Homo sapiens: one gene and its partners. The protein of the gene in region 1 interacts with the protein of each later gene in a biochemical or structural test. Each region holds a gene or a part of one and is shown in the gene's direction. Other genes may lie near its edges. The genes, in order: SORBS1, ABL1 and KHDRBS1.

What was found.
Region 2: of the proteins of SORBS1 (region 1) and ABL1, one has a biochemical effect on the other in vitro, tested with the Homo sapiens proteins (one study listed by BioGRID).
Region 3: the proteins of SORBS1 (region 1) and KHDRBS1 interact in a test that uses a peptide from one of them, tested with the Homo sapiens proteins (one study listed by BioGRID).

What each region holds. Positions count from the first base shown.
Region 1 is NC_000010.11:95,337,871-95,341,522, reverse strand, and holds part of SORBS1 (sorbin and SH3 domain-containing protein 1), read left to right. Parts: intron 1-112; coding exon 113-238; intron 239-2,195; coding exon 2,196-2,390; intron 2,391-3,652. UniProt on the Homo sapiens protein: Plays a role in tyrosine phosphorylation of CBL by linking CBL to the insulin receptor. Required for insulin-stimulated glucose transport. Involved in formation of actin stress fibers and focal adhesions.
Region 2 is NC_000009.12:130,838,188-130,841,839, forward strand, and holds part of ABL1 (tyrosine-protein kinase ABL1), read left to right. Parts: intron 1-3,652. UniProt on the Homo sapiens protein: Non-receptor tyrosine-protein kinase that plays a role in many key processes linked to cell growth and survival such as cytoskeleton remodeling in response to extracellular stimuli, cell motility and adhesion, receptor endocytosis, autophagy, DNA damage response and apoptosis.
Region 3 is NC_000001.11:32,041,051-32,044,457, forward strand, and holds the end of KHDRBS1 (KH domain-containing, RNA-binding, signal transduction-associated protein 1), read left to right. Parts: intron 1-1,476; coding exon 1,477-1,574; 3' UTR 1,575-2,827; downstream 2,828-3,407. UniProt on the Homo sapiens protein: Recruited and tyrosine phosphorylated by several receptor systems, for example the T-cell, leptin and insulin receptors. Once phosphorylated, functions as an adapter protein in signal transduction cascades by binding to SH2 and SH3 domain-containing proteins.

The sequences.
Region 1 (3,652 bases):
GCCCAAAGCACCATTTATTTACCAAATGCTTATGTTTTGTTTCCTCCTTTTCCTCTTGTTTCCCTGCTTTCTTCTCTTCCCTTGTTCTCTTTTACCTCTTTCCCTTTCTCAGCTTCTTCCTCCTGCTGAGAAGGCACAGCCCAAAAAGTTGACACCAGTGCAGGTTTTGGAATATGGAGAAGCTATTGCTAAGTTTAACTTTAATGGTGATACACAAGTAGAAATGTCCTTCAGAAAGGTAAGCTGCACTTCTCATGCCTTGCTTTGGGGCTCTCTTGGATGGCGCAGCTATGTGGGGAAGCGTGGTGTTGCTATCACACCCCAGTCTGGGGGTGCTGTCTGTACCCTTAAGAGAAGTATGCCAATCAATAATTGCATTAAGGGCTGGGCACGGTGGCTCATGCCTGTAATCCCAGCACTTTGGGAGGCCGAGGTGGGTAGATCACTTGAGGTCAGGCGTTTGAGACTAGCCTGGCCAACATGGTGAAACCCCGTCTCTACTAAAAATACAAAAATTAGCTGGGCATGGTAGTGGGTTCCTGTAATCCCAGCTATTCAGGAGGCTGAGGCAGGAGAATCATTTGAACCTGGGAGACAGAGGTTGCAGTGAGCTGAGATCGCTCCACTGCACTCCAGCCTGGGCAATAGGTCTCCAAAAAAAAAAAAAAGAATTGCATTAAGGCCTGTAATCCCAGCACTTTGGGAAACCAAGGCAGGAGGCTCGCTTAAGGCCAGGGGTTCAAGACCAGCCTGAGCAACGTAGCAAGGCCCCATCTCTACTGAAGAAAAAAAAAAAAAGAATTGCATTAAGGGCAATTGGAGAATTTTCTGAGGTAAGGTATTTTTAAAATAAACCCTAGGCTAATATCAGGGTTTAACTATATTGAGCTCACTGATTAAACATAGTATTTCTGGAGTCTTAGACATCTTTTATAAGCTGTTTTCAACCAACACTTACCAACTAATGATGTCATAATGCATTGTGTTGGGGACTGGGTTTTACAATATATTGGTGTGACCTAGTGGAAAAAACAGGTCCATTGATACCAGGAGAAGTTTGAAAAGCTTTGAACCCAAAAGGCACAAACCAACTACGCAGAATGTGGGAGTTAAATACTTTTTCCAAGCCACCATTTTCTTATAGAAAAAAAATGAAGATAGATGGCTCTCTCCTAGGTGGTTGTAAGAGGCTTCGGTGAAACAACTTATGTGAAGCCCCCAGCATGACACATGGTATCTTGTTGGTGCTTAGTAAACAGGAGATGCCAGTATTATTATTATCACCATCATGCTTATTCAGAACATAATTACATTGTGCAGAGAAGTTGTTCTTTCCAGAATCCAAACACTCTACATGGCAAAATTCTCTGGCTTGCTAAAGTTACTAAGTTACTGATTTTATTGAGGCTTGAGGGAAGTGAGCACATTGTTAGAAAAAGCACTGGAAGCAACCCAGTTGCCCAACAGCAGGGGATCAGTAATTAAATCATTATATGTGTGTGCGACAGAATACCCTGCAGTGGTCCATTAAGCTATGCAATGCCATTAAAAATCTAGAATTCTATTTCTTGATAAAGAAGGAGGTTTACTATGTGCTATTAAGTATTTTTTAAAAAGCAAGTTGGAAAAGGGAAACACAGTTCATACTCAATTTTTATAAGAAAAAATATGTGCAGGTTTAATTCACATGCATAGAAGTAAATCTGGGGAGTCCATATGCCAAATATTAAGTGTTTATCCCCAAATGACTATGTGATGGGTGATGATTGTTTTCTGCTTTACGTTTGTGTTCTGATTTTTCTATAATGATACATTATAAGTATCTATAATGCTACAAAAGAAAGAAAAAGTGAAACCCCCCAAAATCTTTGCCTTAGAAATGAAGATTGGGTATCTGTTTCACATTAAATGAGTCAAAAACACTACATTTGTTCCCTGGCTTAGGGACACAAATCTGATGTTCTCCTTTACTAAAATACTTAAAGAACCAAGCTGAACTTCCCAGCATCAAGATAGCTCCTCTGCCATTAGCATCCTCATCCCAGTGGTGTTAATTCCCTCCAGGTTCAGCAGGGAAGGTTTTTCCTGAGCTAAGGATGTGATAAACAATGCAGGACATTGAAGCATGCAGGCAGAGGCCCCAGGCATGCAGAGGCATGCTAGGACAAGGACCCTCTCTTTGCTGTGTCTTCCAGGGTGAGAGGATCACACTGCTCCGGCAGGTAGATGAGAACTGGTACGAAGGGAGGATCCCGGGGACATCCCGACAAGGCATCTTCCCCATCACCTACGTGGATGTGATCAAGCGACCACTGGTGAAAAACCCTGTGGATTACATGGACCTGCCTTTCTCCTCCTCCCCAAGTCGCAGTGCCACTGCAAGCCCACAGGTATCTAAGCTTCTCGTCACTGGTTTTCATACTCAGCATGTGAATTTTTGTAGTCAACAGTGCTGATGGCACACAGCCTCTCTGGGGAGGTTTTTGAGCACTGCAATTAAAAACTGTCTGCAGGAGGCCGGGTGTGGTGGCTCATGCCTGTAATCCCAGCACTTTGGGAGGCCGAGGCGGGTGAATCACCTGAGGTCAGGAGTTCAAGATCAGCCTGGCAACATGGTGAAACCCCATCTCTACCAAAAATTCAAAAATTAGCCAGGCGTGGTGGCGGGCGCCTGTAGTCCCAGCTACTCGGGAGGTTGAGGCAGGAGAATCGCTTAAACCTGGGAGGCAGAGGTTGCAGTGAGCCGAGATCATGCCACTGCACTCCAGCCTGGACGACAGAGCGAGACTCCATCTCAAAAAAAAAAAAACTGCAGGAAAGCAGACTGTACACTGGACTTTGTCTTTATGCATACAAATGGCCTTTTCCAGTGCTTGGTTGCAGATATATCTCAAGGGAAAAGGAATAGTCAAGTAATTGCTCTGGGAATAAGGTGACTAGGGAAAGAGAAACAGAGAAACAAGAGCCTTTATCAGTTGGCCCCTCTTGGGTGAAGCTGTTGGTGTGGGTACCACCACTGTGTCATAAATCCCATGGTCCAAATGCGGTCCTCAGTCATCTTGGCCAAAGTTGACCTGCAGAAGACAAAGGCTGAAAGAGAGACTTACACCTTCTCATCAGCCATATAGACCAGATCCAAAGTATTATTTGCATTCACTGGAACCAGGTGATTGGAACAAGTAACTTACAGCATCTCAGTCTCTGTGGGCTGAAAGGATATAGGTTTATAGGCGTAATAAGATGTTGGCTTTCCCAAACATTAATTATGAACAAACTTGTTTAGAAATATAAACTATTCCTAACTGATCCCCACTTTCCCAAAGCCAAGAAAATGTCAGAACCTTGAGTTCAGGGTGACACGGTGGGGGTGACATCCCTGTGAAAGAGCCTGGACAAACCACCATGTATGTTGTAAGGAGGTTGGCAGAGGAACAAGAGTAGGACCTGGGGGCCCAGGTTGACCCTGAGATGGTGCCTCTTGTCTGGTCCTCTAATTGTTTCCTCCTCTGCCACCTGCTCATCACTGACCCCAGTAGAGGGTTCTTGGCAGAAAGCATTAAACGGGCTGACCCAGGGCTTCCTGGACAGTGATAGCCGCATCCTGTTGTCTTATAGGACAGAGTGTGTGACTGGAGTGGGACATTCTTCTTTG
Region 2 (3,652 bases), on another chromosome or scaffold:
AGAGCCAGTGAGTGGGGGTACTGGAATTTGAACTCATGCTATCTGGCTTGGGAGAGCCCACTTTTAGCCACTGGATGCTCTACTGATGTCTCTTTTGGAATTCACTGTGATTTTCAAAATGGTATCTCCAGAAACTCCTCCAATTAATCCCTGAAATGTAAGGGTAGTCTCTTTTTCTTTTCTAGAAACCTGATCCTGGCAAAATGATTAGCTTTAACAGTAGGATTAATTTTTTTTAAATGTATATAAAAATACTTGTATGTAAGAAATCCTAAAAGGGTATTTAGTGAAAAGTAATTCCCTCTCCTATTCATTTTCCCCACCTAGAGGCAATCACCCTGGAGTTTTATGTGTGTCCTTCTAGAAATACTGTGTGCACATATAAGCATTTATTATAACATGTGAATTTTGCTCTCCAGCTTTTTGTGAATATGCATGTTTATAGCAGTATCTATTCACCAGGACCGCATTTAGCTTTGCAATATTCGGTCTACTTTGAACACTGAATTTTCTGATTATTTCTTTCCCCTGGAGACGTCAAAGAAAACATGAACACTAGCCTTTTGAATTCAGGGTTTTCTTTTCATTTTATTTTCATTTGTTCATGTGTTTGTATTTACATACATTGTGCCTGAATATTGTACATGTATGTGACAGTTGTGTACTGTAGAATCAAAAACTAATGTCTGTGAACTGAACTCTTCTTGAACTTTTTGTTGTTGTTGTTATTGTTGCTTTTGGAGATAGGGTCTTGCTCTGTCACCCAGGCTGGACTGCAGTGGCACAATCACAGCTCACTGCAGCCTTGAGCTCCTGGTCTCAAGCAACCCTCCCACCTCAGCCTCCCAAGTAGCTGGGGCTGCAGGCATATGCTACCTGACTAATTAAAATTTTTTTTTTTTTTTTGTAGAGACAGGGTCTCACTATTTTTACTAGTTTGCCCGGGCCAAGCCAGTGTTGAACTACTGGCCTCAAGTGATCCTCCCACCTTGGCCTCCCCAAAGTGCATCCCTACAGGCATGAGCCACTGCACTCAGCCTGAACTTTCGAAATTTATTTTAAGGGCCCACTTTTAAATGCTTCTTTTCAGCAGCTAACTTTCCAGCGGATGCTTCATGTGGTGCCAGCCATACAGATACGCTTTTAGAACTTGAGCTTTGGAGAAGCTTATGCTTGCTTTCTGCTCTCTCCTGAGGTCATCAGATACTTCCCTTGTTCAGTAACAAAGAAAGTGAGACTCTTTCTGTTACCTAATAAAAGGCCAGTCTGTCCATTTCATTTTGGGTGCTATTAACATTGTTGACCATTTACAATGTCACAGGCCCTGGCACTGAGCACATCATGTGCAGCCTCACTTAATTTTCACACCAGTGCCCTGAGGTTTCTAGAAAAGAGGAAGGGCCCCAGTTTAGGTGGCAGTACTTTTCAATTTGGAGGCAGGAGATCCCAGTTTTCCTCTGACCTCTCTGAGCTTCCGTGTTTTTACCTCTAAGACAGAGAGACCAATCTCTGTTCAGCCACCTTAGAGGATTGTTTTGAGGGTCTATAAGATGATTGAGGGAAAGCTCTGAAACTGGTAAGAGTTAAATGTATGTTTGTGTTATGTTGATACGAGATTCCTCTGAGATGCTCTTTAGTCCAGGCAGGTTTATGGCTCACACAGCGTTCCTAGGGTCTCATTCTTCTGCACAGGCAGGCAGCTCCCGAGCCAGCCAGTCTGGACCCAAATGCCACCTGTGCTCTTGGCTGGTCTTGCGCATTCACCGAGGCTCACTGTACCTTGGTGTTCCCATTTCTAAAATAAGGCCTGTAGTAATCCCTACCTCACTGAGTTGTTGAGAGACTTCATGTAAATTGTTTAGCAGGGAGCCTGGCACAGAACAAGAGCCTAGCAGAAAAGTAAGCTGTTGTTACTTTAAGCAAATATTTAGCAGCCTAAAATGGTGGCTTTACCAGTTTCTGTAATGGTTGAAGTGATGACAGAATTCAGCCAATCCCACCCATAGTTTTTCTTGCTAATAAAGCAGTTTGTTTCTAAGTGTGTTTTGATGCGTATAATTAATACTTCCTGTCCTTGATTTTTGGCTGAAAAATGTCTTCTCTTCCTCGCACCCTCTGTTATTCCCGTAGTGAATATTTTCATTGTGGAAGAGAAATTCCCATTGGCTCATGGTTGGCATTTTATTTCTCCTGTCCAGAGACAATATTTCCACAGCCTCAAACGTGAAAACTGAAAATCTGGTGCCACTTACCACCTTGTAAAATCAAGTCATTGTAATTGTGCCAGTATAATCATTGATCTGAAATAAAAGCAGAAAATAAATCAATGGGTAGCTTTCTTAAATACATAAGAACTAAAGATCAAATGGGATATTGGAAGACTTTAACTTTTCCTCCATAATGGTGGATCTTAATTAAACACACAGAAGAACAATTTATAAAATAAATTCATAGGTTTGTTTGTTCTTTTTTAGTGTCAATTTTTAAAACTATCTCTTTTTTAATTAAAAAAAATAGAGATGGGTCTCACTATGTCGCCCAGGCTGGTCTCAAACTCCTGGGCTCAAGCAATCCTCCCACCTCAGCCTCCCAAAGTGCTGGGATTACAGGCATGAGCCACTGCACCCAGCCTAAAACTGTCTCAAAAGTAGACAGCATAATGAACTCCCATGTACTTATGATGTGGCTTTAACAATTATCAGCTTATAGTCAGTCTTGTTTTCTTACATAATAAAGTTACAGTTTCAAAGCCATTAGGAAGAATAGCTTGCTAATTATAATTACTTAGTTTTGATAGTGTAACTTTGTCCTCAGATGGGTAGAATCGTTACTCTGGAACAGGGGTGTCCAATCTTGGCTTCCCTGGGCCACATTGGGAGAAAAATTGTCTTGGGCCACACGTAAAACATACTAACGATAGCTGATGAGCTAAACCAACAAAACAAATCCCACAAAAATCTCATTTCTTTTTTTTTTTGAGACAAGAGTCTCACTCTGTCGCCCAGACTGGAGTGCAGTTGCACGATCTCAGCTCACTGCAAGCTCCGCCTCCTGGGTTCACGCCATTCTCCTGCCTCAGCCTCCCTAGTAGAGGGTACTACAGGCGCCCGGGGGTTTCACCATGTTAGCCAGGATGGTCTCCATCTCCTGACCTCGTGATCCGCCCACCTCGGCCTCCCAAAGCCCTGGGATTACAGGCGTGAGCCACTGCACCGGGCCAAAAATCTTATAATGTTTTTAAGAAAGTTTGCAAATTTGTTAGGCCACATTCAAAGCCGTCCTGGGCCATATGCAGCCCGTGGGCCATGGGTTGAACAAGCTTGCTCTAGAAATTGGTTTTCAGGCCGGGCGCGGTGGCTGACGCCTGTAATCCCAGCACTTTGGGAGGCCGAGGCAGGTGGTCACCTGAGGTCAGGAGTTCGAGACCAGCCTGGCCAACATGCTGAAACCCTGTCTCTACTAAAAATATAAAAAATTAGCCAGGCGTAGTGGGGAGTGCCTGTAATCCCAGCTACTCAGGAGGCTAAGGCAGGAGAATTACTTGAACCTGGGAGGCAGAGGTTGCAGTGAGCCGCGATCTCACCATTGTACTCCAGCCTGGGCAACGAGCAAAAACTCCAGCTCAAAAAAAAAAGTTGGTTTTCAAATCCTT
Region 3 (3,407 bases), on another chromosome or scaffold:
CTGTTTTGCTGGAGAAAAGACCAAACTGAAAGAGGCAGGCTTCTCTTTGTGCTCCTGATACGACGTTGCCACAGTTAATCCGTTCTGATCTCTGCTTTGATTAACAGAATTAGAGAAATAAACTGTCCAGGATGATCTGTATACGTCAGGAAAAAAAGAAAAAGAAACTGTCTTGTTGATACCCAGAAGCCACTTGGAAAGTGATGGACATGTGTGTTATACTAGGGGTATAATTAGGGTTCTGTGTGACTTTAGATCTGTATAGGAGTTTGAGGCCTATAGAGATGGAGGCAGATACTTGTGAATACAGGCAGCTGGAAAAATACTTCAGGGATGAACTAGCGTGTGTAAGGTGTGGGAAGAATAAATTTAACGCAATTTATTTTCATAAGAGGTCACCTCTAGAATTATGTGATCATATTCCTCAGGCTTTTCCCTGTCACAAAGGAGAACCATTTGAGGATGTGAACCACATTGTCTGGCTTCTGGCTTCTCTCACCTGTTGACTTAAGAAAGGAGATAAGGAATTATCCTTTTTTTTTTTTTTTTTTTTTTTTGAGATGGAGTCTGGCTCTGTTGTCCAGGCTGGAGTGGAGTGGCACAATCTCAGCTCACTGCAACCTCTGCCTCCCAGGTTCAAGCACTTCTCCTGCCTCAGCCTCCTGAGTAGCTGGGATTACAGGCATGCGCCACCACGCCTGGCTAATTTTTGTATTTTTAGTAGAGATGGGGTTTCACCCTGTTGGTCAGGCTGGTCTCGAACTCCTGACCTTGTGATCTGCCTGCCTTGGCCTCCCAAAGTGCTGGGATTACGGGCGTGAGCCACCGCATGCAGCCTTGGAATTATCTTAAACAGTGCTGTCAGTGCAACATTTGATTGCACATCCCTCTACCAGAGAGAGCAGTATCAGCTCTGCTGGTGGAGGGCCCCATGGAAAGTGGCCCTTGCTTGGTTTTCCCAGGGAGCTAGAGGACACTTCTCCGTAAGGAAACGTGACTTGCTGTTGCATGGAAGTGGGGCTGGCTGCCTGCTTCCAATCTGAAAGACTTCCAGAAGTCTTCCCACCTTACCTGAGGGTGCCTGCCAAATTGTTTTGGGAACAGGAAAGGCCATTGCAGACTCACTAAGATTAATGAGTTCCTCACTATCTCAAGCAAGGTGTTGGGTATCTCCAGGTTTGGGGACTGGCGTACAGATCACATTTGTCTATGAAGAACCTCGTTGTGGGAGATTACTCCAGAGTCAATGGCAGCCTTTTTAGATTTGTTCCCTTCTGTCCTTCCACTCAAAACTGAAAAATTGCCCAGGCTGCCCAAGAGGGCCAAGCCAAGTAGAGAGCAAGGAACACCAGGGGAAGTGTCAAGACATTAGAAGAAACTCAGTGTTTTTGGTGATCTTTACTATGTGACCTATCCCTGCTTATCCCTAAGTGCTGTCGCCACATGGTTTATAAACTGTCTTTGTTTTCCCCACAGGCCAGGACGACTGGAATGGGACCAGGCCGTCGCTGAAGGCCCCTCCTGCTAGGCCAGTGAAGGGAGCATACAGAGAGCACCCATATGGACGTTATTAAAAACAAACATGAGGGGAAAATATCAGTTATGAGCAAAGTTGTTACTGATTTCTTGTATCTCCCAGGATTCCTGTTGCTTTACCCACAACAGACAAGTAATTGTCTAAGTGTTTTTCTTCGTGGTCCCCTTCTTCTCCCCACCTTATTCCATTCTTAACTCTGCATTCTGGCTTCTGTATGTAGTATTTTAAAATGAGTTAAAATAGATTTAGGAATATTGAATTAATTTTTTAAGTGTGTAGATGCTTTTTTCTTTGTTGTTTAAATATAAACAGAAGTGTACCTTTTATAATAAAAAAAAGAAGTTGAGTAAAAAAAAAAAACACACAAACCTGTTAGTTTCAAAAATGACATTGCTTGCTTAAAGGTTCTGAAGTAAAGGCTTGTTAAGTTTCTCTTAGTTTTGATTTGAGGCATCCCGTAAAGTTGTAGTTGCAGAATCCCAAACTAGGCTACATTTCAAAATTCAGGGCTGTTTAAGATTTAAAATCACAAACATTAACGGCAGTAGGCACCACCATGTAAAAGTGAGCTCAGACGTCTCTAAAAAATGTTTCCTTTATAAAAGCACATGGCGGTTGAATCTTAAGGTTAAATTTTAATATGAAAGATCCTCATGAATTAAATAGTTGATGCAATTTTTAACGTTAATTGATATAAAAAAAAAAACAACAAAATTAGGCTTGTAAAACTGACTTTTTCATTACGTGGGTTTTGAAATCTAGCCCCAGACATACTGTGTTGAGAGATACTTAGAGGGAGGGAGTAGGTTTTGAAGAGGTTGATGGTGGTGGGGAGGGAAGGCCTCCTGAATTGAGTTTGATGCAGAGCTTTTTAGCCATGAAGAATCTTTCAGTCATAGTACTAATAATTAAATTTTCAGTATTTAAAAAGACAAAGTATTTTGTCCATTTGAGATTCTGCACTCCATGAAAAGTTCACTTGGACGCTGGGGCCAAAAGCTGTTGATTTTCTTAAGTTGACGGTTGTCAATATATCGAACTGTTCCCAAGTTAGTCAAGTATGTCTCAACACTAGCATGATATAAAAAGGGACACTGCAGCTGAATGAAAAAGGAATCAAAATCCACTTTGTACATAAGTTAAAGTCCTAATTGGATTTGTACCGTCCTCCCATTTTGTTCTCGGAAGATTAAATGCTACATGTGTAAGTCTGCCTAAATAGGTAGCTTAAACTTATGTCAAAATGTCTGCAGCAGTTTGTCAATAAAGTTTAGTCCTTTTTTAATCAAAGTAAATGTGATGAATTGTCATTTTTTTGGGTGGACCATAAAATAGTTTTCTCTTTCAAATAAACTTAAATTAACTCTAAAGTTAATGGGCTTGTTAAAAGTTGGAAACATTCTTAAAAGTGGTGGGGGGGATTTTATTTTAAGTTTACCAAAAAAAAGTTGATGGAGTTGTTAAGTTTTAGTTTAAAAATAACCAAAGCTTTTTCACCCCCTGGAAGTTGTTGGAAGCTGTTGTATCCAATCCTATCAAAAATTCTAATTTATGGAGAGTTTTCAACTCAACTGAGCTGAAACTTGGATTGGTTTCCATAGATAGGTCTCAGTATTTAAAAGTGCAAGCCAGCCTGGTTTGCACCTTCTGTAGAACCCCTAGGTGGCTCTAAAGTGTGACACCAAATAATTTCTGTGAGCTCAGAAGGGGACAGCATCTGCCTTTAGGCATGACAGTTCAGCCAACTCTGGGTGCCCTTGAGGGTTTCTCTTTCAATCCCAGAAATGCTGATAACTCAGCTGGGCTGGGGCAGGATTTGGCATGATAGGCTGGCTCTGAACCCCCTCCTAAGAGACCAAGAGAGGAAGTG